Homo sapiens: one gene and its partners. The protein of the gene in region 1 purifies or fractionates together with the protein of each later gene. This does not show direct contact. Each region holds a gene or a part of one and is shown in the gene's direction. Other genes may lie near its edges.

The links.
Region 2: the proteins of MED9 (region 1) and MED25 purify together in Homo sapiens (co-immunoprecipitation; 3 studies listed by BioGRID and IntAct, with this or other methods). This does not show direct contact.
Region 3: the proteins of MED9 (region 1) and MED1 purify together in Homo sapiens (affinity purification with mass spectrometry; 9 studies listed by BioGRID and IntAct, with this or other methods). This does not show direct contact.
Region 4: the proteins of MED9 (region 1) and POLR2B purify together in Homo sapiens (affinity purification with mass spectrometry; 4 studies listed by BioGRID and IntAct, with this or other methods). This does not show direct contact.
Region 5: the proteins of MED9 (region 1) and GPN3 purify together in Homo sapiens (co-immunoprecipitation; 2 studies listed by BioGRID and IntAct, with this or other methods). This does not show direct contact.
Region 6: the proteins of MED9 (region 1) and MED12 purify together in Homo sapiens (affinity purification with mass spectrometry; 6 studies listed by BioGRID and IntAct, with this or other methods). This does not show direct contact.
Region 7: the proteins of MED9 (region 1) and CCNC purify together in Homo sapiens (affinity purification with mass spectrometry; 5 studies listed by BioGRID and IntAct, with this or other methods). This does not show direct contact.

Annotation. Positions count from the first base shown.
Region 1 is NC_000017.11:17,487,000-17,490,360, forward strand, and holds part of MED9 (mediator of RNA polymerase II transcription subunit 9), read left to right. Parts: intron 1-3,361.
Region 2 is NC_000019.10:49,824,789-49,828,288, forward strand, and holds part of MED25 (mediator of RNA polymerase II transcription subunit 25), read left to right. Parts: intron 1-3,500. UniProt on the Homo sapiens protein: Component of the Mediator complex, a coactivator involved in the regulated transcription of nearly all RNA polymerase II-dependent genes.
Region 3 is NC_000017.11:39,423,764-39,427,263, reverse strand, and holds part of MED1 (mediator of RNA polymerase II transcription subunit 1), read left to right. Parts: intron 1-2,525; coding exon 2,526-2,637; intron 2,638-3,442; coding exon 3,443-3,500. UniProt on the Homo sapiens protein: Component of the Mediator complex, a coactivator involved in the regulated transcription of nearly all RNA polymerase II-dependent genes.
Region 4 is NC_000004.12:57,027,396-57,030,895, forward strand, and holds part of POLR2B (DNA-directed RNA polymerase II subunit RPB2), read left to right. Parts: intron 1-2,808; coding exon 2,809-3,004; intron 3,005-3,377; exon of another isoform or gene 3,378-3,500. UniProt on the Homo sapiens protein: Catalytic core component of RNA polymerase II (Pol II), a DNA-dependent RNA polymerase which synthesizes mRNA precursors and many functional non-coding RNAs using the four ribonucleoside triphosphates as substrates.
Region 5 is NC_000012.12:110,455,122-110,458,257, reverse strand, and holds part of GPN3 (GPN-loop GTPase 3), read left to right. Parts: intron 1-623; coding exon 624-748; intron 749-2,327; coding exon 2,328-2,443; intron 2,444-2,575; coding exon 2,576-2,672; intron 2,673-3,136. UniProt on the Homo sapiens protein: Small GTPase required for proper localization of RNA polymerase II (RNAPII). May act at an RNAP assembly step prior to nuclear import.
Region 6 is NC_000023.11:71,132,096-71,135,595, forward strand, and holds part of MED12 (mediator of RNA polymerase II transcription subunit 12), read left to right. Parts: coding exon 1-111; intron 112-281; coding exon 282-443; intron 444-749; coding exon 750-861; intron 862-1,027; coding exon 1,028-1,117; intron 1,118-2,261; coding exon 2,262-2,371; intron 2,372-2,617; coding exon 2,618-2,753; intron 2,754-2,996; coding exon 2,997-3,158; intron 3,159-3,500. UniProt on the Homo sapiens protein: Component of the Mediator complex, a coactivator involved in the regulated transcription of nearly all RNA polymerase II-dependent genes.
Region 7 is NC_000006.12:99,555,161-99,558,660, reverse strand, and holds part of CCNC (cyclin-C), read left to right. Parts: intron 1-112; coding exon 113-164; intron 165-3,500. UniProt on the Homo sapiens protein: Component of the Mediator complex, a coactivator involved in regulated gene transcription of nearly all RNA polymerase II-dependent genes.

The DNA of each region.
Region 1 (3,361 bases):
ACTCTGTATCTAGCTCAAGGTTTGTAAACACACCAATCAGCACCCTGTGTTTAGCTCAAGGTTTGTGAATGCACCAATCGACACTCTGTATCTAGCTGCTCTGGTGGGGCCTTGGAGAACCTGTGTGTCCAAACTGTATCTAACTAATCTGATGGGGACGGGGAGAACCTTTGTATCTAGCTCAGGGATTGTAAATGCACCAATCAGCGCCGTGACAAAACAGGCCACTCGGCTCTACCAATCAGCAGGATGTGGGTGGGGCCAGATAAGAGAATAAAAGCAGGCTGCCGGAGCCAGCAGTGGCAACCCGCTTGGGTCCCCTTCCATGCTGTGGAAGCTTTGTTCTTTCACTCTTTGCAATAAATCTTGCCACTGCTCACTCTTTGGGTCCACGCTGCTTTTATGAGCTGTAACACTCACCGCGAAGATCTGCAGCTTCACTCCTGAGCCCAGCGAGACCACGAGCCCACCGGGAGGAACGAACAACTCCAGACATGCTGCCTTAAGAGCTGTAACGCACACCGCGAAGGTCTGCAGCTTCCCTCCTGAGCCAGCGAGACCACGAACCCACCAGAAGGAAGAAACTCCGAACACATCTGAACATCAGAAGGGACAGACTTCAGACGCGCCACCTTAAGAGCTGTAACACTCACTGTGAGGGTCCGTGGCCTCATTCTTGAAGTCAGTGAGACCAAGAACCCACCAATTCCGGACACACAAGTACATAAGGGTATAAGTACAAGATGTTCACTGTCATTCTAGTACAGTACAACCACCCATGAATAGCCAGGGTAATTTCGCTGTCTAATTGTATATGTGTTAACATGGAAGGACATCTGAGGTGCCTTGTTAAGTAGAAAAAGCAAGAATGAGAACTATGGATGGTCACATTTCTGTCAGAACAAATAAGAAAAGTTTGTGTGTTTTGTATGCTGTTGTACATTTCAAAGCCATCTGAAACAGTGGACACCACATGTTAGCAGAGGTTATCTCTGGAACAAGGGGTTAATGAGATTTCCCTTTTCTAAGCCTTGGTTGTCTCATTTTTGAATTTTTTCCCTCAAGTACCTATTACTGTCATTTTTTAAAAAAGTGATCTTAGAAAAATGAAAGCCACTGGAGTTAGTACCGTGCGAGGAGAGCCTGTGGGCAGAGGAATGGACTGGTAAGGGCTGGTCTGAGGGCAAGGCAGCTGGGACAGAGTGGAGTGTGAGGCACAGTGCATGGAAGTTGTGAGGAAGAAGAAATGGGAAACTGAGTCAGATGCCACCAAAAGGTCAAAAGAAATGACTGTCAGATTTGGGAGGAAGTCTGTGTCAGTGGTTCTAGCAGAGTTATTGGCCAGTTTGCATCTGTACTAAAGCATCCATGCTAAAAAGAAGAACAAAGAAAATCAGGGCATGATTCTCAGACACCTGCCTAAAACCCTGTGATGTTTGCCTTTGAGTCTGGTGACACGGATACAACTGTCTGTCAGACGTGGGAAGGATGCTCAGAGGATCACCCCTGGCGGTAGTATTTTTGTCCACTCTTTAAAAAAACCATAGTAGGGGGCTGGGTGCGGTGGCTTACGCCTGTAATCCCAGCACTTTGGGAGGTTGAGGTGGGCGGATCACCTGAGGTCGGGAGTTCGAGACCAGCCTGGCCAACGTGGAGAAACACCATCTCTACTAAAAATACAAAATTAGCCGGGCGTGGTAGCGCATGCCTGTAATCCCAGCTACTCAGGAGGCCGAGGCAGGAGAATCACTTGAACCCGGGAGGCGGAGGTTGCAGTGAGCCAAGATCGCACCATTGCACTCCAGCCTGGGCAACGAGTAAAACTCTGTCTCAAAAAAAAAAAAGAAAAAAAGAAACCACAGTACCACAGTAGTTGGGACCAAAGTGCTCTGACCTTGCCTTGTTTGTACGATGTTCATCCTCCTTGACCTAGTGGCTTTTTTCATTCCTTCTATAGTTGGCCGATGACTAACCTTGAACACAAAGGTAGGCCCACTTAGAGCTTTCTGCTTTTATTCACTCGGTATTTGGTCCTGTCCCTTTTCTTTTGGCTTGAATATTTCACAGTCATCCTGGCTTAGCAGATGCCCACTTCTGAATAGCATGTTCTCTTCACTCCAGGAGTTCCATGCTATTTACCTCCACCAACTAGGGCAGTTGGGCTTGCAGAGGGGCCTCCCTGTGGGCTGCATGGCCCCTTTTGGCTCAGCTGCCCTCCAGGCGGCTTGTCTTACAGCTCCTTTTTTATTATCTGAAGACTGTCTCCTTTCCTGAAAGTTCACCAAAGAACACGCAACCCTTGCTATTTGGGGGTTTTCAGAGATGAGCATCTTAAACATGACCCACTTTCAACTTTCAGAACTAAATTTTCTTTTGGGCCAGGTTATGTTTGCTTCAAGAATGGGATTATCTGTCATCCACATTTCTATTTTAAGTACTTTTTTGTTTGTTTTACCATGTCCTTTGAGACTCATGTGAGTCGGTTTTTTTAAAAACTATATTTTAATTTTAAAACTTCCTTGGGACTTAAATTCGTAACGGTATGTTAACACGCATGCCATCCGAGTAGAAGGATTTCAGAAGTGCAGATGGTTTCTGTCCACATTTGTGGATCAGAGCTGAGACTTCAAAGAATTAAAATAAAAGACGTTCCCTATTTGCTTCCTTCCAAAGGATTTTTAGTTCTCATGAATACCAGTTCATCCTCTCTAGAATCTGCGATAAGGTATACTGTTAATGGTGTCTCTCAGTTGAGGGCATCATTTCCTGGCCTCTCATTTCCTGGAAGAAGTGATTGATTCTCCATACCCTCCCTCTGAGTTTAGAGCTGTTGGTAAATACTGAGCTGGCCATGGTGGCCATCTGATTTGCAAGGTGTGAGACGTAACTGATGGATCGCCAGGAAAGATGGATATTCTGCCTGCGTAAGCAGAGAAATGATGAATAGTAAACATGAATTAGCACCATCTGGGTTGAAATTTCCCACTACGGATGAACATTTATTTGAAAAAATTAATGATCATTGACAGTTTTTCCCTCTTATGCCTCAATGGCTTACTTTCAGAACAGCTTACTGAATTGCCTTTTAGTTTTGGTCTCAACCACTTGTTTTCAAAAGCTCATCCACTTACTAACTTTTAAAAAACGTATAGGAAGCTGAGTGTGGTGGCTCATGCCTGTAATCCCAGCACTTTGGGAGGCCGAGGCAGGTGGATCACCTGAGGTCAGGAGTTCAAGACCAGCCTGGCCAACATGGTGAAACCCTGTCTCTACTAAAAATACAAAAATTATCCGGGCGTGTTGGCATGCGCCTGTAATCCCAGCTACTCAGGAGGCTGAGGCAGGAGAATTGCTTGAACCG
Region 2 (3,500 bases), on another chromosome or scaffold:
CAGGCCGTGTGTAGGGAGCCCTTGGTCATGGCCGGATGCTGTTAACATTCACTCATTTTGACCTCCTGGGGCTCCAGGCACCTGTTAGCCGATGAAAGCGGGCAGCAGAGACCCCGGGGAATGATACTGGGTAGAACAAATGGGAGTAAGTTAGAGGACTTGGGAACACCAAGTCAGAGCCCACTTGTGTCACCTAGGGGGCTTTTATTTTTATTTTGTGTCTGCCATATCAAGGGGTTTATTTGGAATTTATCATAAACTTGATATTTTAGCCATATTTTGCAGCCAGCCATAGTGCTTCTTCTGTTCAAGTTTTCCACATTTCTTTGACAAAATGTTTATTACATGTCGCCCTTTGAGCTTGTAGCACATGACTTGTACTTAGTGTTCAATAAGAGAAACGCAAGTTTTAGCATCTCAAACTGGTTAGTTTATCACACTTTTCCTCATAAGGGTTTTGTTTTGTTTTGTTTTGTTTGAGATGGAGTCTCTCTCTCTCTCCCAGGCTGGAGTGCAGTGGCATGATCTCAGCTCACTACAACCTCTGCCCCCGAGGTTCAAGTGATTCTCCTGCCTCAGCCTCCCGAGTAGCTGGGATTACACGTACCCACCACCATGTCTGGCTGGTTTTTGTATTTTTAGTAGAGATAGGGTTTCACTTTGGCCAGGTTGGTCTTGAACTCCTGACCTCAAGTGATCCGCCCACCTCGGCCTCCCAAAGTGCTGGGATTACAGGCATAAGCCATTGCACCCAGTCACTTCCAACTGTTTTACAGGGTCATGCCTGTAATTCCAGCACTTTGGGAGGGTGAGGAGGCGGATCACCTGAGGTCGGGAGTTCGAGACCAGCCCGACCAACATGGAGAAACCCTGTCTCTACTAAAAATACAAAATTAGCTGGGCGTGGTGCCGCATGCCTGTAATCCCAGCTACTCGGGAGGCTGAGGCAGGAGAATCACTTGAACCCAGAAGTCGAAGGTAGTGGTGAGCTGAGATCGTGCCATTGCACTCCAGCCTGGGCAACAAGAGCGAAACTCCATCTCAAAAAAAAAAATTTATCACCCCAAAGAGGACACCCCATATGCATGAAGCACTAGCTCCCCATTCCCCCATCCCCCCATCCCCAGCCAGGGTGGTTTTGGCTCGAGTCCCAGAAAGGCCCAGGAAAATATTGGCTTAATTTCACCTGTAGCAGAACAGCTGGGTCCAGAGTTGGTTCACCCCAACTCTTTGCACACAGTTGAAGTTTCTGCGTGCAAAGCTGTCTTGATGCCGGGCACAGTGGCTCACGCCTGTAATCCCAGCACTTTGGGAGGCCGAGGCGGGTGGATCATAAGGTCAGGAGTTCGAGACCATCCCGGATAACACCGTGAAACCCCGTCTCTACTTAAAAATTAAAAAAATTAGCCGGGCGTGGTGGCGGGCACCTGTGGTCCCAGCTACGAGGGAGGCTGAGGCAGGAGAATGGCGTGAATCCGGGAGGCGGAGCTTGCAGTGAGCGGAGATGTGCCTCTGCCCTCCAGCCTGGGAGACAGAGCGAGACTCCGTCTCAAAAACAAAAGCTGTTTTGATGGCTAGGAAGAGGAGGGCTGGGAAGTGTGTGGTGGGTTGGGAGCAGCGCCCGAGTGCCCTGAGAGCAGGAAGAAGGCTCAGGGGCTCAGTGTGCTCACTGGCCGGGCCGAGTGGGACTGGAAGGAAATCAGTGCGAGAACTCAGGCAGGAAGCGGAGAGCCCCGCTGCATGGCCCTGCCAGGCCACCAGTGCACTGAGTACTCAGCAGATGGTTCCTAGGCCTTGTGTGACCTAGGGTCAGACGCCTTGGTGTCTCTCTTGGAGGGCTGCACAGGGTGCGGAGAGAAGCTTGACAGCTGCAGTATCGGGTGATCTATGATGTGACTAAGGGCAGGCCGTAAAATTAGGTGGCATGTAGGGAAGGCTTCCTATAGGAGGGCACACCAGGATGGGTGTCGTAGTTTAGCTGGATTCCATCCGGGCCGGAATGGGTGTGTTCCAGCACATGCAGAGACCTGGATGTCTGGGCTTTGTCAGTTGAGAGGACCTATAGGTGCGGGCATGGAGCAGGAGAGATGGACGGGGTGCAGGACTCGGAGGCCTCGGATGCTGGGCCGATGCCGGGCCGAGGGCCTGGGTTGGTTCCAGTCTTGATGGACACGGTTGGGCCTGTAGACGTTCATTCACTTAGCCTACATTTCCTGAGGCCTCACATGTGCCCCGCTGTGGTGGGCAAGCCTGGGGGTAAGAGAGGACTCAGACCCCATCCCCGCCTGTGGGAGAGGTAGGATCAGAGACCACACTTCAGGGGGACAGGGCCCTCAAGACCCTCAGAGGGGTGCTCGGTCTCCACACACGTCCCCTGCAGCAAAGGTCAGCCTCTCACGACCACGTGACCGGAATAATGGTGGCAACCACAGCTGCCCTTGAGGAGAGGCCATCCCCGGGCCACAACCCATGTGGGACGGATGCTGCGACGCGACTGCAGATCAGGCGGAGGAGAAACGAGAGTCTGTGTGTGTTAGTTTCCCAGGCTGCCGTAGCAAAGTATGAGAAACTGGCCAGAAGAATGGAAATTGATGTCTCAGGGTTCTGGAGGCTGGAAGTCCAAAATCCAGGTGGTAGGGCCAGGCTGTCTCTGAAATCTTACAGGGGAAGGGCCCTTCTGCCTTTCCTGGTGCCTGCTGAGGCTGCATCACCCGTCCTCACATGGCCTCTCCCTGTGTCTCTCTGTGTCCTTGTGTCTTCCCTCTGTGTGTGTGTCCGTGTCCACGTTTCTCCTTTTCACAGACACCAGCCATAGTGGATTAGGGCCCGCAATTTAACTCGATTACCTGTGTAAAGATCTTTCCAAATTAGGTCACCTTCTGAGGTACTGGGGCTTAGGACCTCAACCTGTCTTTTTGAAGGGGGCACACTTGAACCCATAAGACTAGGAGGACAGAGGAGGCCCCCGTCTCTGGCTGGGAAGGTGAAGTGGGGCCAGGACTGATTTGGAGCAGACAGCCCAGAGAGGGGAGGGGACAGCAGGAGGCTGGGCATGGAGTCAGTCACTCCAGGGTTGGAGTCAGCACAGGATCCTAGGCTTGGGGTCCCCAGCCCTTTCCCATTCCCTCCCAGTCCTCATGATTAAAGACAACAAATGTCGGCCGGGTGTGGTGGCTCACTCCTGCAATCCCAGCACTTTGGGAGGCTGAGGCAAGTGGATCATGAGGTCAGGAGATGGAGACCATCCTGGCTAACATGGTGAAATCCCGTCTCTACTAAAAATACAAAAAATTAGCCAGGTGTGGTGGCAGGCACCTGTAGTCCCAGCTACTCGGGAGACTGAGGCAGGAGAATGGCATGAACCCAGGAAGCGGAGCTTGCAGTGAACTGAGATCATGCCACTGCATTCCAGCCTGGGCGACAGAGCGAGACTCCATCTCAAAAAAAAAAAAAAACACAGACAGCAAATGTCCCCTGTCCTGTCTGGGACTGGTGCTGTG
Region 3 (3,500 bases), about 22 Mb from region 1:
GTTGCAGTGAGTCAAGATTGCGTCACTGCACTCCAGTCTGGGTGACAGAGCGAGACTCCATCTCAAAAAAAGAAAAAAAGTACTTTTGAATAAATAAGTAAATGAGCAACTCATAAGAAGAGATATAAACGATCTGACCTGAGATAATCAGCTTACTCATTGTTTAAAAAGTGTAGAAGGATGGGCCTGGTAGTTTATGCCTGTAGTCCTAGCTACTTGGGAGGTTTGGGCGGGAGGATTGCTTGAGCCCAGGAGTTTGAGACTGTAGCATACCATGATCGTGCATGTAAATAGTCATGGTACTCCAGCCTGGGCAACGTAGTGAGTTACTGATCAAAAAAAAAGTGAAGTTTTCTAAATTAAAGAACTATGGTAATGGACATTATTTTCTGTTTGCCCTTGATACAAGAAAAGATAAAGAGAGATAGACTGCCGGGCGCGGTGGCTCATGCCTGTAATCCCAGCACTTTGGGAGGCTGAGGTGGGCGAATCACCTGAGGTCAGGAGTTCGAGACCAGCCTGACCAACATGGAGAAACCCTGTCTCTACTAAAAATACAAAATTAGCCAGGCGTGATGGCCCATGCTTGTAATCCCAGCTACTCAGGAAGCTGAGGCAGGAGAATCGCTTGAACCTGGGAGGCGGAGGTTGCAGTGAACCGAGATTGTGCCATTGCACTCCAGCCTGGGCAACAAGAGCAAAACTCTGTCTCAAAAAAAAGTGAAATGGACTAATACCTCCTTAGGTCCCTTTGTAGCTTCACTCATTGACTCCATCCCTTTATTGTTTGTTTGTTTGTTTGTTTATTTATTTATTTAAGATGGAGTCTCACTCTGTCACCCAGGCTGGAGTGCAGTAGTGCGATCTCAGCTCACTGCAACCTACACCTCCTGGGTTCAAGTGATTCTCCTGCCTCAGCCTCCCAAGTAGCTGGGACTACAGGCATGCACCACCACACCCGGCTAATTCTTGTATTTTTAGTAGAGATGGGGTTTCACTATGTTGGCCAAGCTGGTCTTGAACTCCTTACCTGAAGTGATCCACCTGTCTTGGCCTCCGAAAGTGCTAGGATTACAGGTGCGAGCCTTGGCGTCAGGCTCCTTTATTGTTATTATAATTTGGCATGGGGGACGGGGTAGGTCTCACTGTGTTGCCCAGGCTGGCGTACAGTGATTTGATCACAGCTCACTACAGCCCCCGAAGTCCTGGGCTCAAGCCATCCTCCCGCCTTGGCCTCCCAAAGTGCTAGGATTACAGGTGTGAGCCAGTGCACCAGCCTGTCCTTTTATTATGATCCTACTTAAATGCATTCTGAAGAAAAAATAAGTAAATATTGATACTGAACCCTTCAAAAATGATGTTTTTGGACTGCATTGTTTCTTGTGTTTTATTTACTGACAAAAATTATTGGTTGATTAGAAAGGTAACTTCCAGGATTTCTAATTTTTTTTTTTTTTTTCCCCAGACAGAGTCTCACTCTGTCGCCCAGGCTGGAGTGCAGTGGTGCGATTTCGGCTCACTGCAACCTCCGCCCCCCAGGTTCAAGTGATTCTCCTGCCTCAGCCTCCTGAGTAGCTGGGATTACAGGCGCCTGTCACCACACCTGGCTAATTTTTGTGTTTTTAGTAGAGATGCGGTTTCACCGTCTTCTGCAGGCTGGTCTTGAACCCCTGACCTTGTGATCCACCCGCCTCAGCCTCCCAAAGTGCTGGGATTACAGGCATGAGCCATCACACCTGGCCTGATTTCTAAGTTTTATAGGAACTACAGGCCGTGCCTGGTGGTTCATGCCTGTAATTTCAGCACTGTGGGAGGCTGAGATGGGTGGATCAACTTTAGGCCAGGAGTTTGAGACCAGCCTGGCCAACCTGATGAAACCCCCATCTCTACAAAACATACAAAAAAATTAGCCAGGCATGGTGGTGCATTCCTGTAATGCCATGTACGTGGGAGGCTGAGGCATGAAAATTTCTTGAACCTGGGAGGTGGAGATTGCAGTGAGTCGAGATCACACCACTGCATTCCAGTCTGGACAGAGTGAGACTCTGCCTCCAATAAAAAAATAAATAAATAGGCTGGGCGCAGTGATTCACACCTGTAATCCCACCTGTAATCCTAGTCCTTCGGGAGGCCAAGATGGGCGGATCATGAAGTCAAGAGATCGAGACCATCCTGACCAACATGGTGAAACCCCATCTCTACTAAAAATACAAAAAATTAGCCGGGCATGGTGATGGGCGCCTGTAGTTCCAGCTACTTGGGTGGCTGAGGCAGGAGAATGGTGTGAACCCAGGAGGTGGAGCTTGCAGTGAGCTGAGATTGCGCCACTGCACTCCAGCCTGGGTGACAGAGCAAGACTCTGTCTCAAAATAAATAAATAAATACATAAATAAATAAATAAGGGAATAACAGCATCTGATAAATTATAGCTGACAAATATTGCAAAAATTAACCTCTTAAAACATACTGTGATTCCCATCATTTGTATTACTTTGAGGAATACCCTTTTTCTTTCCTATCCCCAGTTTCTCGATCTTTGGGCATGAATGCATCAGTGACAATTGAAGGAACATCTGCTGTGTACAAACTCCCAATTGCACCATTAATTATGGGGTCACATCCAGTTGACAATAAATGGTAAGTTAAATATAATTTTAGAGTAGCAAAGTCAATTTTTCTCAAAGCGCAGTATGTAACAAGTTTTAACCTGGCTGTTACCCCACTTGAATTTCTAGAGGTTGGCCTTTTGTTTTATCCATTCATTGGTTTCTCTTTTGTTTGATATCTGAGTGTTCCTCTCCAAAGTCGGCTCGTAGAACACATTCTCTGCACTGAAAGGGAAAGAAGAGAACTGTGCTAATTCCTCTGGCTTAATGAGTGCCCCCTTTTATCTTACGTTCATTAGTTACATTGGAGTAATAACTGGAGAACATGCCTCAGGATAAATGTTTGATTAAATTCTACAGTGTTAACCAATAGCATGTCTGGGAATTGGGGGTAGGAAGTTTCACAGAGTGAGCTTTTGAGAGTTTGTACTTATGTGTCTGTGTGATACATACATGTTTAAGAATAGGTGTTTGTGGCCAGGCATGGTGGCTCACGCCTGTAATCCCAGCACTTTGGGAGGCTGAGGCAAGTGGAACACCTGAGGTCAGGAGTTCAAGACCAGCCTGGCCAACATGGTGAAACCCCATCTCTACTAACAATACAAAAATTAGCCGGGCGTGGTGGCGGGCACCTGTAGTCCCAGCTACTCACGAAGCTGAGATAGGAGAATCCCTTGAACCCGGGAGGCAGAGGTTGCAGTGAGCCAAGATCACGCCATTGCACTCTAGCCTGGGCATTAAGAGGGAAAATCTGTCTCAAAAAAAAAAAAGGTGTTTGGGTTTTTCATTTTTATATCAAGTCAGAATCCAACCCTTCCACCCTCTTTTTTTTGAAGGACCCCTTCCTTCTCCTCAATCACCAGTGCCAACAGTGTTGATCTTCCTGCCTGTTTC
Region 4 (3,500 bases), on another chromosome or scaffold:
TTTCCAGGCTCAGGTGATCCTCCCATCTCAGCCTCAAGTAGCTGGGACTACAGGCATGCACCACCAAGCCCAGCTAATTTTTTATATTTTTTAGTAGAGACAGGGTTTTGCCATGTTTCCCAGCTGGTCTCAAACTCCTGAGCTTAAGTGATCCACCTGTCTGCCTTGGCCTCCCAAAGTGCTGGGATTACAGGCATGAGCCAAGGCGCCTGGCCTGTGGATATTTTTTTGATACTACACCAAAACGGTAAGTTGTAGTTTCTCAAAGGTTGGTTTTGATGTAGAAACTGAAACCATATGAATGAACCTTCTGTATTTATGTTTGAAGTTCATTGGTTTGTCTTGTACTTCAGATGTATCTTTTACACATGCATATTTTGTAGCATCCTAATTGGTCATTTGGAAAATATTGGTTTGCTGAGTTACGTAGATTTTCAAATGTTAACACACTTCATTATAATAAAAAAATTGCATTTGTTAATATGACTACTGATGTCATTAGAAAAGCCTTTAAATATATCAGGAAGCTATCAAGCCCATAGTGGTGCATAGAAGTTTCCTAAAATTCTGATTTTTGCTTGAAGCTCACAATTTTCATCATTTTCAACAAATACTTAAAATTATTTTCCTCAAAGACTTACTTTTTTCGTTTGCTTTCATTTCTTTTTGTTCATTTCTTTGTCTGCCAAATATCTACAACATCGTCAACTTAATTCTAAGTCTGAATTAACATCATGGGTGTTAACATGTTGATGAGTTAACATAGTTGGTGTCAGCTGGCTATTTGAGTAAAAAAGATACTCCATGTTAAAAGGGACTAGTTCAGAATCATGCAAGTGCTTTTGTTCAAGACAGTCATCTTCACTATGCAGTAGAAGTGCTTATGAAGTGTTCCATTTTATTTTACTTTATTTTTTATATAGAGACTGGGTCTTACTGTGTTGCTCTGGCTGGTCTTGAACTCCTGGGCTCAATCCAGCCTCTCACCTTGGCCTCCCAAAGTGCTGGGATTATAGGTGTGAGTCATCGTGCCTGGTTGAGGACTTTCATTTTTTTAAAAGTCACAGGATATGAAAGAGATGTATACTCAAGGGTTAAGGTTTAATAAAACTATTTATTTTCACTGCTTCATTAAGGACATTTTTAAGTAAAACTGGCTTTTCTCCCCTTCACTTGAATGGAGAATATGACTGCTAGTAATGTTTGGTTCTGCTACCCTGAGTTCTGCTAAGGTGTCAGCAGTTTTATTCATGTTTCCACCATCAGTGCAAATGTAAACACAGTGAAAGAAGCAAATATATGTTGTTAGTATTACTATTAAAAATAGCTTTGACTCTCAGGCGGTCCATGAACCACACTCTGAGAACCTCTGCTCTAAAAGATTAGGACACTAAACCTAACCACAGTACCTCCTTAGTATTAAATATCCAGATTTACATTTCCCTGATTATCACATAAGTTTTTTAAAGGTTTGTTGGTTTTAATCAGTATACAGATAAGGTCCATGCTTTGCAATTGATTGATAGTGTCTCATAAGTCCTTTTTTGAATTTATTGGTTGCCTTCCAACCTTTTTTTTCCCCTTGTAATTTGTTTGTTGAACAACCTGGACTGTTTGTCCAGGGCTTGAGACTGAATTTTGCTGCTTGCATCCCAAATGCTGTGCATTGCTGTTTTTTGTTTGTTTGTTTGTTTTTTGTTTTTTGTAAATAGATCTTGAGGCTTGAGATTTAGCGTTTGAGTTTTTTGGCAGTAATACTTTATAGGTGGTATTCTATACTTCCAGTATCTGGTTGCCTTTCTTTTTATGATTTTAGCAGCTATTACTAAAGACCTTAATTAAATGGCGATTTCCAACTGATACCATTCTATTTTTTCTCAGTCCTTCTTCAGTTTTTAGCCAGACTACTTCTAAAACTTTGTTTCCTCAACTGTTTGGTTACCTAGTGATGTAGTTCTTATAGTAAGGGCAGGAATAAATGCTTGATTCTCTTTTTTTATTTACCAGTTTTCAAAATAGTGAGCTGGTTGTCTAATGATCCAGATCAGTGGTCCAAAGTCGACCAATGATTTTTTTGTTTTGGTGGAATATCATTATAAACCCATTGGTTTTATTTTGTATATTTTGGATATTAAGTATGTTAAGGAAGCCATCACCATCTATTTGCCTGGCCATCTGAATAATGCATTTATTTCACTTCTTATGTTGGGGAAACCTATTATCATTTACCTGTTCTTTCCATTACTTCAGCCAACATGTATTTATGATTTCAAGGTTGATTGCCTGGGACAGTCATTCCATTGACAAGCTGCCTTATTTAGATTGTCTTTTTCATTATTCATTTTTTTAGTATAGAGTTGAATTCTAGAAAGTTAAATGATAGCATGATGAACCTCCACTCTATGCTTTATTGTGTCTTATGAGGAAAATTAAATGCTCTACTTAAGAATCTAATGTATCCACTCCATTTGGGGACCTTCTGTTTTTATTTTTATTTGTTAAAAAATAGAGATGGGGTCTCGCCATGTTGCCCAGGCTCCTGAGCTCAAGAGATCCACCCAGTCCACTTCCCAAAGTGCTGGGATTACAGGGGTGAGCCACTTTGCTTAGCCCATTTGGGGACTTTCTAATGCACGTCAAATAGTTGGTAGACTTCTCCTCTCCCCACCAATAGAGAGAATGCTAGGGTATAAAAATTAGAGCCTAGTTATCCGTCTTTGCAAATATTATTCTCCACCTTTGCCATTATTCAAGGCGGTGTTTATAATAAAAAATAAGTACAAAGTAATAATTTTTTTCTCTTAACAGTGATGGTGGCCTGCGTTTTGGAGAAATGGAACGAGATTGTCAGATTGCCCATGGAGCAGCCCAGTTTTTAAGGGAAAGATTGTTTGAGGCATCAGATCCATATCAGGTTCATGTTTGCAATCTTTGTGGAATAATGGCGATTGCCAACACCAGGACCCATACATATGAATGCAGGGGCTGCCGCAATAAAACCCAGGTGTGTATAGACTTTACTGGCAGTTGATATTTGTTTAGAGGAAACTGTGTTGGTCTGATTATCCAGGCAGAATTAGTGTGGCAGAACAGATTGGCATTTTCACAATTTTGATAGCATGCTTCTGTGAGATTCCGAGTTCTAAATAAGGAAAAGATAATTTGATTTTTCTAAAAACCAGTTTAGGTTTTAGTGTGGTAATTTCTCTAAGCTATTCATCTTTTGGAAATAATAAGACTTTGTACAAGGGATTTTAAACAATGAGTTTTTGAAAACCTTTTAGTTGAGGTGGGTGAATATAAATTATGTCTGGCAGAATGGGTAAAATACCAAAGCCTACTAGGAGAAAGAACCACCATAAGCTGAGGTAGCAGAATGTGTGTTCTCAGCTCCACTCATTTATTCATTATCTACAGTACCAGATCTTTGTCTTTTTCTGGGGTAGAGAAGTGGGGTCACTTCAATACAATTCTGCTAATTACCATTTGTTTTTTCTTTT
Region 5 (3,136 bases), on another chromosome or scaffold:
CCTCCCACCTTAGCCTCCCAAAGTGCTGGGATTACAGGTGTGTGAACCATGGCATCTGGCCAATAACACTCATATTGATTGGCAGAAAACTAAAGTGTGAAGAACCTCATTTTCTTTCTTTCTTTCTTTTTTTTTATTTTTAAAGACAGAGTCTTACTCTGTCGCCCAGGCTGGAGTGCAGTGGCGTGATCTTGGCTCACTGCAGCCTCCTCCTCCCGGGTTTAAGCAATTCTTGTGCCTCAGCATCCCACAGGCGCGCACCACCACGCCTGGCTAATTTTTGTGTATTTTTAGTAGAGATGGGGTTTCACTATGTTGGTCAGGCTGGTCTTGAACTCCTGGCCTCAAGTGATCCACCTGCCACAGCCTCCCAAAGTGCTGGGATTACAGGCATGAGCCACCCTGCCCAACCAGAGAACCTCATTTTCTACATAAAACTTAATAGTTAGGGATTCCTATGGTGGCAGTACCTTAGGTTTTATGATTGCTTTGAGAGGCTGTGGGCCCCTTAAAAATGTGTTGGCTTTTATTTTTGTCCATCTTATGGGGAAAATTTGTTTCCTCTAACTTGATGATTTAACATACTTGCTATTTCTAAAATTCTTGCAATACTCTTCATGTAGGTCAGATTGAGTTGTACACTCACCTGCCTGTGATGAAACAGCTGGTCCAGCAGCTCGAGCAGTGGGAGTTCCGAGTCTGTGGAGTTTTTCTTGTTGATTCTCAGTTCATGGTGGAGTCATTCAAGGTCTGAAGCTAAATCTCTTACAGATTTTTTTTTTTTTTTTTTTTTTTTTTTTGTGTGTGTGACAGAGTCTTACTCTGTTGCCTAGGCTGGAGCGCAGTGGCGTGATCTCAGCTCACTGCAACCTCCGCCTCCCAGTTCAAGTGATTCTTGTGCCTCAGCCTCCTGAGTAGCTGGAATTACAGGTGTGTGCCATCATGCCTGGCTAATTTTTGTATTTTTAGTAGAGACGGGGTTTTACCATGTTGGCCAGGCTGGTCTCAAACTCCTGACCTCAAACATCAAGTGATCCACCTGCCTTGGCCTCCCAAAGTTCTCTTAAAGATTTTTAAACTATGAGTTCAAGCAGATGACAGTTCCTTTAATTATTGTGTGATTCTGAACATTTCACAAATGATTCCAGAGTTACTTTATCCCTTTTATTATTAAATTATAACATGTTGTTAATCAAAAATAGTAAATTATTATATCATAGAGATTTAGGAGGAACTGCTTACCAAGAAAAAAACTGAGGTTGCTGGGTGAAGTGGTTCACAGCTATAATCTTAGCACTTTGGGAGGCCAAGGCAGGAGGATTGCTTGAGCCCAAGAGTTTCGGACCTGCTTGGGCAACAGAGTGAGACCCTGTCTCTACAAAAAATATAAAAATTAGCTAGACGTTGTGGCACATGCCTGTAGTCCCAGCTACTTGGGAAGCTGAAGTGGGAGGATCGCTTGAGTACAGGAAGCAGAGGTTGCAGTGAGCCAAGATCGCCAAGATCGCACCATTGCACACCAGCCTGAGTGACAGAGTGAGACTCTGTCTCAAAAAAAAAAAAAAAGAGGAAGTAGTGGGGGAGAAAAAACTGAAGCAGATGGCTATTTTATAAAATAGTCTATTTTTAATTTTCTGAGGACCTTTTGTCCAGTTTATGAACTACCAAGATCAAATTTTTTATTAATAGCTCTTAAGGAATATTAGATGGGAAAGGAAATTAAAATGCTGTCTAAATTGAAATTTGTGATCACTGTATGTTATCTATATCTTCCCTCACCTTTGGGAACCAAGAATCAAGCATTTGATTCCCAATGATTTGGGAACATTTTTTTCTATATGGCTAGCATTACTTTTAATAAAATATAAATAATTTTGCCTTTTCCACATGTTCTGAACTGGCATTTCTTTTTTTTTTTTTTTTTTTTTGAGACCAAGTTTTGCCGTTGTTGCCCAGGCTGGAATGTGGTGGCGCAATCTTGGCTCACGGGAACCTCCGCCTCCTGGGTTCAAGTGATTCTCCTGCCTCAGACTCTTGAGTAGCTGGGATTACAGGCACATGCCACCATGCCTGGCTAATTTTGTATTTTTAGTAGAGACAAGGTTTCACCACGTTGGCCAGGCTGGTCTTGAACTCCTGACCTGAGGTGATCTGCCCGCCTCAGCCTCCCCAAGTGTTGGGATTACAGGCATGAGCCACCACGTCCAGCTTGCATTTCTTTTATTTAGGCCAGTTCTGTTCCAGTGAGGAATAGAAGACTCTTTATGCAGACCAGGTAACTGTTGGCAACAGTCAGTTCATCTTCCCTTTTCTGTTTCCTCCTTCAGTTTATTTCTGGCATCTTGGCAGCCCTGAGTGCCATGATCTCTCTAGAAATTCCGCAAGTCAACATCATGACAAAAATGGATCTGCTGAGTAAAAAAGCAAAAAAGGAAATTGAGAAGTGAGTTCACTGTTCTTCCATTATTATCAGATCTCAGTTGCAGAGATGAACCTTCTGTTTTATTTAGATGGGAAGTTTGGCTGGTTTATAAACCTAGTCTCCTGAATTCATCAGTCTTTCTGTCTTTTAAAGATTTTTAGATCCAGACATGTATTCTTTATTAGAAGATTCTACAAGTGACTTAAGAAGCAAAAAATTCAAGAAACTGACTAAAGCTATATGTGGACTGGTAAGCTTTTAAAGTTTGGATTTTTTGGCCAGGTGCAGTGGCTAATGCCTGTAACCCTAGCACTTTGGCAGGCCAAGGCAGCAAGATTGAGTCCAGGAGTTCAAGACCAGCCTGGGCAACATAGTGACACCCTATCTCTAAAAAAATTTTTTAAATTAGGCCAGGTGCAGTGGCTCACACCTGTAATCCTAGCACTTTGGGAGGCCAAGGCAGGCTGATCATTTGAGATCAGGAGTTCAAGACCAAGCCTGGCCAACATGGTGAAACCCTGTCTCTACTAAAAATACAAAAAAAAATTAGCTGGGCATGGTGGTGTGCGCCTGTAATCCTAGTACTCGGGAGCCTGAGACAGGAGAATCACTTGAACTCGGGAGGCGGAGGTTGCAGTGAGTTGAGATCATGCCACTGCAGTCCAGCCTGGGCGACAGAGTAAGACTTTGTCTCAAAAACAAAAAAAAATTAGG
Region 6 (3,500 bases), on another chromosome or scaffold:
CATCGCCAAGGCCACAATCGAGGTTTTCCAACAGTCAGCAGAGACAGGGTCATCTTCTGGAAGTACTGCAAGCAACATGCCCAGCAGCAGCAAGACCAAGCCTGTGCTCAGGTCGGATAGAAACATGTTAGGACCCATCCCCTTAGGAGTTTATCTGCTGGTAGCGTGAGTGATATCAGATGCGTGGAGATGCCAGCATGTCCATCAGGGAAAGGAGAGGATAGATTGTTCCAGCCTTGCCTGGCTCCCCTGTGACCCTGTGTCCTCTGTCTGTTCTCCAGCTCTCTAGAGCGCTCTGGTGTATGGCTGGTGGCCCCCCTCATTGCTAAACTGCCCACCTCAGTCCAGGGACATGTGTTAAAGGCTGCTGGGGAAGAATTGGAGAAGGGTCAGCACCTGGGTTCCTCTTCACGCAAAGAACGTGATCGACAAAAGCAGAAGAGGTAAAGGGGCTTAGGGAGTGGACCAAGATTGAGGGGTAGAAAGGAGAAGAGGCAGGCCCGGGGAAGAATAAAATGGGCCAAGGAGAAGCATCATAGGAAAGTGGAAAATCAGAGGATAAGAGTGGGCATGGCTGAGCAAGAGGCTAGATCTTAAGAGAGTAGTCTGGAGAATGAGGTTGGAAGTTGACTCCCAACCCACAGTCTCCCTTTTCTCCTCTCCTCTTCTCTCCTCTTCTCTTCTCTTCTCTTCTCTTCTCTTCTCTTCTCTTCTCTTCTCTTCTCTTCTCTTCTTTCTCTTGTCTCTAGCATGTCCCTATTGAGCCAGCAGCCCTTCTTATCGCTGGTGCTAACATGTCTGAAAGGGCAGGATGAACAACGCGAGGGACTCCTTACCTCCCTCTACAGCCAGGTGCACCAGGTACAGATCTCTGGGCCATGGAGGTGGGCAGGAGGTCAGGGAAGGATGCACCTAAGGGGTTACTCTGTACTTGGAAACTTCAGTACTTTCTGATAAACATATTGGCTGCTGTGGGATGGAAACACGAAGATCCCTGAGCTGCATATTTTATTTGTTTCTATTCTAGATTGTGAATAATTGGCGAGATGACCAGTACTTAGATGATTGCAAACCAAAGCAGCTTATGCATGAGGCACTCAAACTGCGGCTCAACCTGGTGAGAAGGCCAGCTGGGGAGAAGAAGGAAGAGGGTAGGGCTGGAAATGCGGAGTGCAAAAGCCTCAGGTTGGGGAGAATGGGGGTAAGGATAGAGGCCCCAGGTTATTCTGAGTCTTGAAGGGTTTTTTTTTTTTTTGGAGTCAGAGTCTCACTCTGTCACCCAAGCTGGAGTGCAGTGGCGCCATCTCAGCTCACTGCAACCTCCACCTCCTGGGTTCAAGTGATTCTCGTGCCTCAACCTCCTGAGTAGCTGGGATTACAGGTGTGTACCACCACACCTGGCTAATTTTTGTATTTTTCATAGAGATGGGGTTTGACCATGCTGGTCAGGCTGGTCTTGAACTCCTTACCTCAAATGATCCGTCTGTCTCGGCCTCCCAAAGTGCTGGGATTACAGGCATGAGCCACCGTGCCCAGCCTGAGTCTTGAAGTATTAACCTTGTTCTCTGAAAGTATGCAGGGACTGAAAGTGGTTAAGGGGGCTGGATCACTGTGGTCATGGTCCAATAGGTTATGTACCCTGGATCCTTGCAGGGCCTCTGCCTCAGTATCCTAGATTCTGACTGGGCCCTAGAAGCACTGGAAACCCACTGTGGAATGTTGAATGGAATCCTGGAAATCATTCTGTCCAATTCCCATCACTTTCTAAGTATGGAAACAGAGGCCTAGAGACGTCAAGAATTCCGTCATTGTCTTGAGATCATGTAGCAAATCATAGGCTCAACTCAAGCATGGCCGGGCGCGGTGGCTCACGCCTGTAATCCCAGCACTTTGGGAGGCCGAGGTGGGCGGATCACGAGGTCAGGAGATCGAGACCATCCTGGTTAACACGATGAAACCCCGTCTCTACTAAAAATACAAAAAAAATTAGCTGGGCGTGGTGGCAGGCGCCTGTAGTCCCAGCTACTCGGGAGGCTGAGGCAGGAGAATGGCGTGAACCCGGGAGGCGGAGTTTGCAGTAAGCCGAGGTCGCGCCACTGCACTCTAGCCTGGGTGACAGAGCGAGACTCCGTCTCAAAAAAAAAAAAAAAAAAAAACTCAAGCATGAACTCAGGCGTCCCAACTCAGATTGGAACTAAGCTTTCCTGAAACTCTGGCCTTTGTCCCTGAGCCATCTGACTGACTTGTTGTGGCCCTGGCAGGTGGGGGGCATGTTTGACACGGTGCAGCGCAGCACCCAGCAGACCACGGAGTGGGCCATGCTCCTCCTGGAGATCATCATCAGCGGCACTGTCGACATGCAGTCCAACAAGTAAAGCATCCCCACCCGCTCCCTGCAGTTTCATACCCAAGAAGCTCCCCCTACTCCCATGCCAGGTGCACCCACTGAGATTGGTGTGGCTGTTACTGTGGACTCCGTGGCCCTGGGCTCCCCATACAGTTTTGGTGCCCTTGGGATGACATATTAAGCACCTCTCCCTGCTTGTGTCCTCTGCTGAGGCCTTTTTCTATCTTCACCTCTTTCTTCTTTGGTTTTCTCTCTGGCTTCCTGTCTCAGTGAGCTCTTCACTACTGTGTTGGACATGCTGAGCGTGCTCATCAATGGGACATTGGCTGCAGACATGTCTAGCATCTCGCAAGGTAGCATGGAGGAAAACAAGCGTGCATACATGAACCTGGCGAAGAAGTTGCAGGTAAGCAGAGGAAGCGGGGGCAAGGTTTGCGGTTACTGGAATCTGCTGTCCAGCCTCAGGAACTTGCTTCTGGCTGGAGCCCTCTACCTTTCCTTCTCACGTCTGCCTTTTCTTTGTTACTCATGCCGTGAGCATTTACTGAGTGGGGGTCTTCTCTGTGCCAGGTTCTGTGCTGTCCCCTGAGACTTCCCATCCCTGTTTTCTGTATCTCTGAACTCTTGTCCCATCTTCCTGTGCCTGCAGAAGGAGTTGGGGGAGCGCCAGTCAGACAGTCTGGAAAAGGTTCGCCAGCTGCTGCCACTGCCCAAGCAGACCCGAGATGTCATCACGTGTGAGCCACAGGGCTCCCTTATCGATACCAAGGGCAACAAGATTGCTGGCTTCGATTCCATCTTCAAGAAGGAGGCATGTTCCATTGTCTGCCCGTGTCCCTTGCCTTTTTTCCCCTTTGGGCAAGAACTTTGCCTGCATCAGCTTTGTAGCTCCAACAGACTCATCAGATTCAGGAGCCCATCAGTCTCTGCCGGTGAACACCATCTCTGGGGTTTTGAGCAAATCACTTAACTTTCCTTACATTTCATCTCCATCTTTGAAGTCCCACCCTCTTTCCTTCACCCTGCCCTCACCTTTTAACATACCACCCATTTTTCAATACCCTACCCTCCTCTTTCCTCTGCTCCACCTGCCCCATGTCCTACCCCACCCATCTATCTGGCCGACAGCCTGTATCTCTTTTATTTCTGTGTT
Region 7 (3,500 bases), on another chromosome or scaffold:
GTAGTTAGAAGGTGAACAGATTGTAAACAGGAGCAAGGAAATCCTGTTTTGAATAGAGTTCAGATACCCTTAGATTCATTGGGTTAACATGTACCTGCTTTTCTTTCTTTAGGAATTTGGAGTAGTTTCAAATACAAGATTGATTGCTGCTGCTACTTCTGTATGTAAGTGCAAAAAGTATATCTGCTTTAAGGATGTAATTCTAAAGAAAGCTCCAGAGTACATAGATTTTTTTTTTTTTAGTTTATGAGACATATGAGATTGGTTGGCTTTATTAAATTTCCTGAGGATAACTTTATATCTAGTGTATCTGGCAAAAAAATCAAGCTAAAAGGTTTTTTTTTAAAAAGATATAAAGATATTACTTTTAATGTTAAAATGGATAGTAATTATCAATCCAAAAACATCAACTCAGTGGCTTTTAATCTTGTAAGAGTAAAGAAAAAATTCTGTTTCCGAATTTTATTGTATTTTATTGTTTTCTAATGACTATTATGTCATTCTTATGGGTAGATATTAATATCTATGTGCAAACCCGTTCCTGTGTTGTTGGGTTGTTATGAGGACCAAATGAGTTAATATAAGCTTTTAGAACAGTGCCTTGCTTAGTATGTTACTTTGCTGAGGCTGCCATAACAAAATGCCACAGAACAGGTGGCTTAAACAACAGAAGCGTATTTTCTCACAGTTTTAGAGCATGGAAATCCAAGATCAAGGTGTCTGGCTATTCTTACATGGACCTTTCTGTGAGCACACACACTCCTGGTTTGCTGTCTTCTTCATGTGAGGACAATAGTCTTACAGAATTAGGCCCCACTCTTATGTCCTCATTTAATCTTTTTTTTTTCTTTCTTTTTTTTTTTTTTTTTTTTGAGACAGAGTCTCGCTCTGTCGCCCAGGCTGGAGTGCTCACTTCAACTTCCGCCTCCTGGGTTCAAGTGATTCTCCTGCCTCAGCCTCCTGAGTACCTGGGACTACAGGCATGTGCCACCATGCCCAGCTCATTTTTGTATTTTTTAGTAGAGACGGGGTTTCACCATGTTGGCCAGACTAGTCTCAAACTCCTGATCTCGTGATCCGCTAGCCTCGGCCTCCCAACGTGCTGGGATTATAGGTGTGAGCCACCATGTCTGGCCTGTCCTCATTTAATCTTATCCCTTTAAAGACCCTCTCTCCAAATACAGTCACATTCTGAGGTACTAGGAGTTAGGGCTTCAACATACGAATTTTGGAGGGGGACATATATTGGTCCACAATACTTGGTAAACTTTAGGGGCTATCATCATCATCATCATCTTCAATGACAACAACATCATTATCACTGGAAAACACTGTGCCAATGCAGTGGCATTGGTACCAAGGTAAAATACAAGGAATTTAAGGACAAAAAAAGAAGACAGAAACATAAAAATATTAATACAGAAGGAAATAAATAGTATAAGAGAGTTACAGAGAATGCTGTGAATGTTTTGGGTGGGAAAAGATTGTTTCATGAATCCAGAAAGGATTAAGTAGAACTTGGTGAAGGAAGTTGAACTGGGGAAATGCAAGAGATAGACAGTCTAAGAACACTGAATAGTTTAGTCAAATAGGGAAAGCTCATGAGTTAGATTAACTGAATGGTGAGTAAGGAAATAGTGGGGAAAACTCCTTACCTAATTTCAGCTAATAGAGGGCCTTCGATGCTAAATGAAGGAATCTGCACTTTGTTCTATTGACAGTAATGAAAGTTAGTTATTTGAGATGGAGTCTCGCTCAGCCGCCCAGGCTGGAGTGCAGTGGCACGATCTTGGCTCACTGCAACCTCTGCCTCCCAGGTTCAAGCGATTCTCCTGCCTCATCCTCCCTGGTAGCTGGGATTACAGGTGTGTGCCACCACGCCGGGCTAATTTTTGTATTTTTAGTAGAGATGGGGTTTCAACATTTTGGCCAGGCTGGTTTTAAACTCCTCACCTCAGGCCTCCCAAAGTGCTGAGATTACAGGCGTGAGCCACTGCACCTGGCCAGTTTTATTTATTTTTACACATGAGGGTAATGCCAGCATTGTGCATTAGGAAGGTAAATCTGACCCACCTCAGCCTCCCAAAGTGCTGAGATTACAGGCGTGAGCCACTGTGCCTGGCCAGTTTTATTTATTTTCACACATGAGGGTAATGCTAGCATTGTGCATTAGGAAGGTAAATCTGACAGAATTATGTAAGATGAATTGGAGGAGAGGGCAGGTAGAATTAGACAAATTTTGAAGTTATTTACATCCCACAACATGGATGAACCTTGAGGACATTATGGTAAGTGAAATAAGCCAGTAACAAAGACAAATATTGTGTGATTACACTTACATGGAATACTTAGTCAAATTAATAAAGATAGAAAGTAGAATGGTAGGGCTGGAGGAAGGGTGGTATAGGGAGTGATTAATGGATACAGAGTTTCAGTTTTGCAAAAATTTTGTATATCTTAACACAATTTAAAAACAAAAACCTTCTGAAATACAGTAAAACTGCAAACTGTATTGAGTGCTGTCACTTACCACAGGGTGCTATGAGAAATAAAACCTAACAAGTTTAAAGTGGAAAAAATAATTTTTAAGTTGCTGAAGTCATCCCAGTGAACACTAATGAAGGCTTAAACGAATATTGGCAGCCAGCAAGAAGAACAAACAAGCCAGATTTGAGCGATAGAGTCAGCAGTTCTTATAAAAAGAAGGGATTTAAGAAGAGTCAGAAATGTGTTTTGAGGTTTTTTTGCCTGGGGGTTGGGGAGCTGAAGCTGGTACTGAAAAAGAGAATAAGTGAGTTCTGAAAAGAATTAAATTTAATCTTTGACATTCTAAGTATAAATATGTTAGTAGAACATCCTCTTAAAAATGTGAGGCCAGCAGTAGAAATTTGGAATTTGATAACATTTAAGAGTTGCACAGGCCAGGTATGGTGGTTCCTGCTTATAATCCGAACACTTTGGGAGGCTGGAGCAGGAGGATTGCTTTAGAACAGGAGTTCAAGACCAGCCTGGACAACATAGCAAGATTCCAGCTCTGCAAAAAATTAAAGAAAAACTAACTGGGCATGGTGGCACACACCTGTAGTCCTAGCTACTCAACTAGGCTGAAGTGGGAGGGTTGCCTAAGCCCAGGAGTTCAAGGCTGCAGTAAACTGTGATTATGCCACTGCACTCCAGCCTGGGCAATGGAGTAAGACTCTGTCCCTAAAAATTAAAAAAAAAAAGAGTTCCACAATGTCTTATGCTGCATAGAAAAAGATGTGAACCAAAGAAAAAAACATCTTTGAGAGAGAACATAGTGTCATTAACAATGTGGGGGTGGAGGTAGAAGCCAGATTGCAAGGAATTAAGAAGCAAGTAGGTGCTGAGAAAGGAATAGTCTAACTATATTAAAAATATATGAAACAACTTCAGTGAAGGGAATTGGGGGAAAGGTGTTGACATAAGTAGCTTTGGAAATGATTAAGAGTGTAAGAGTAAAGGCAAAAGGAACTACACAT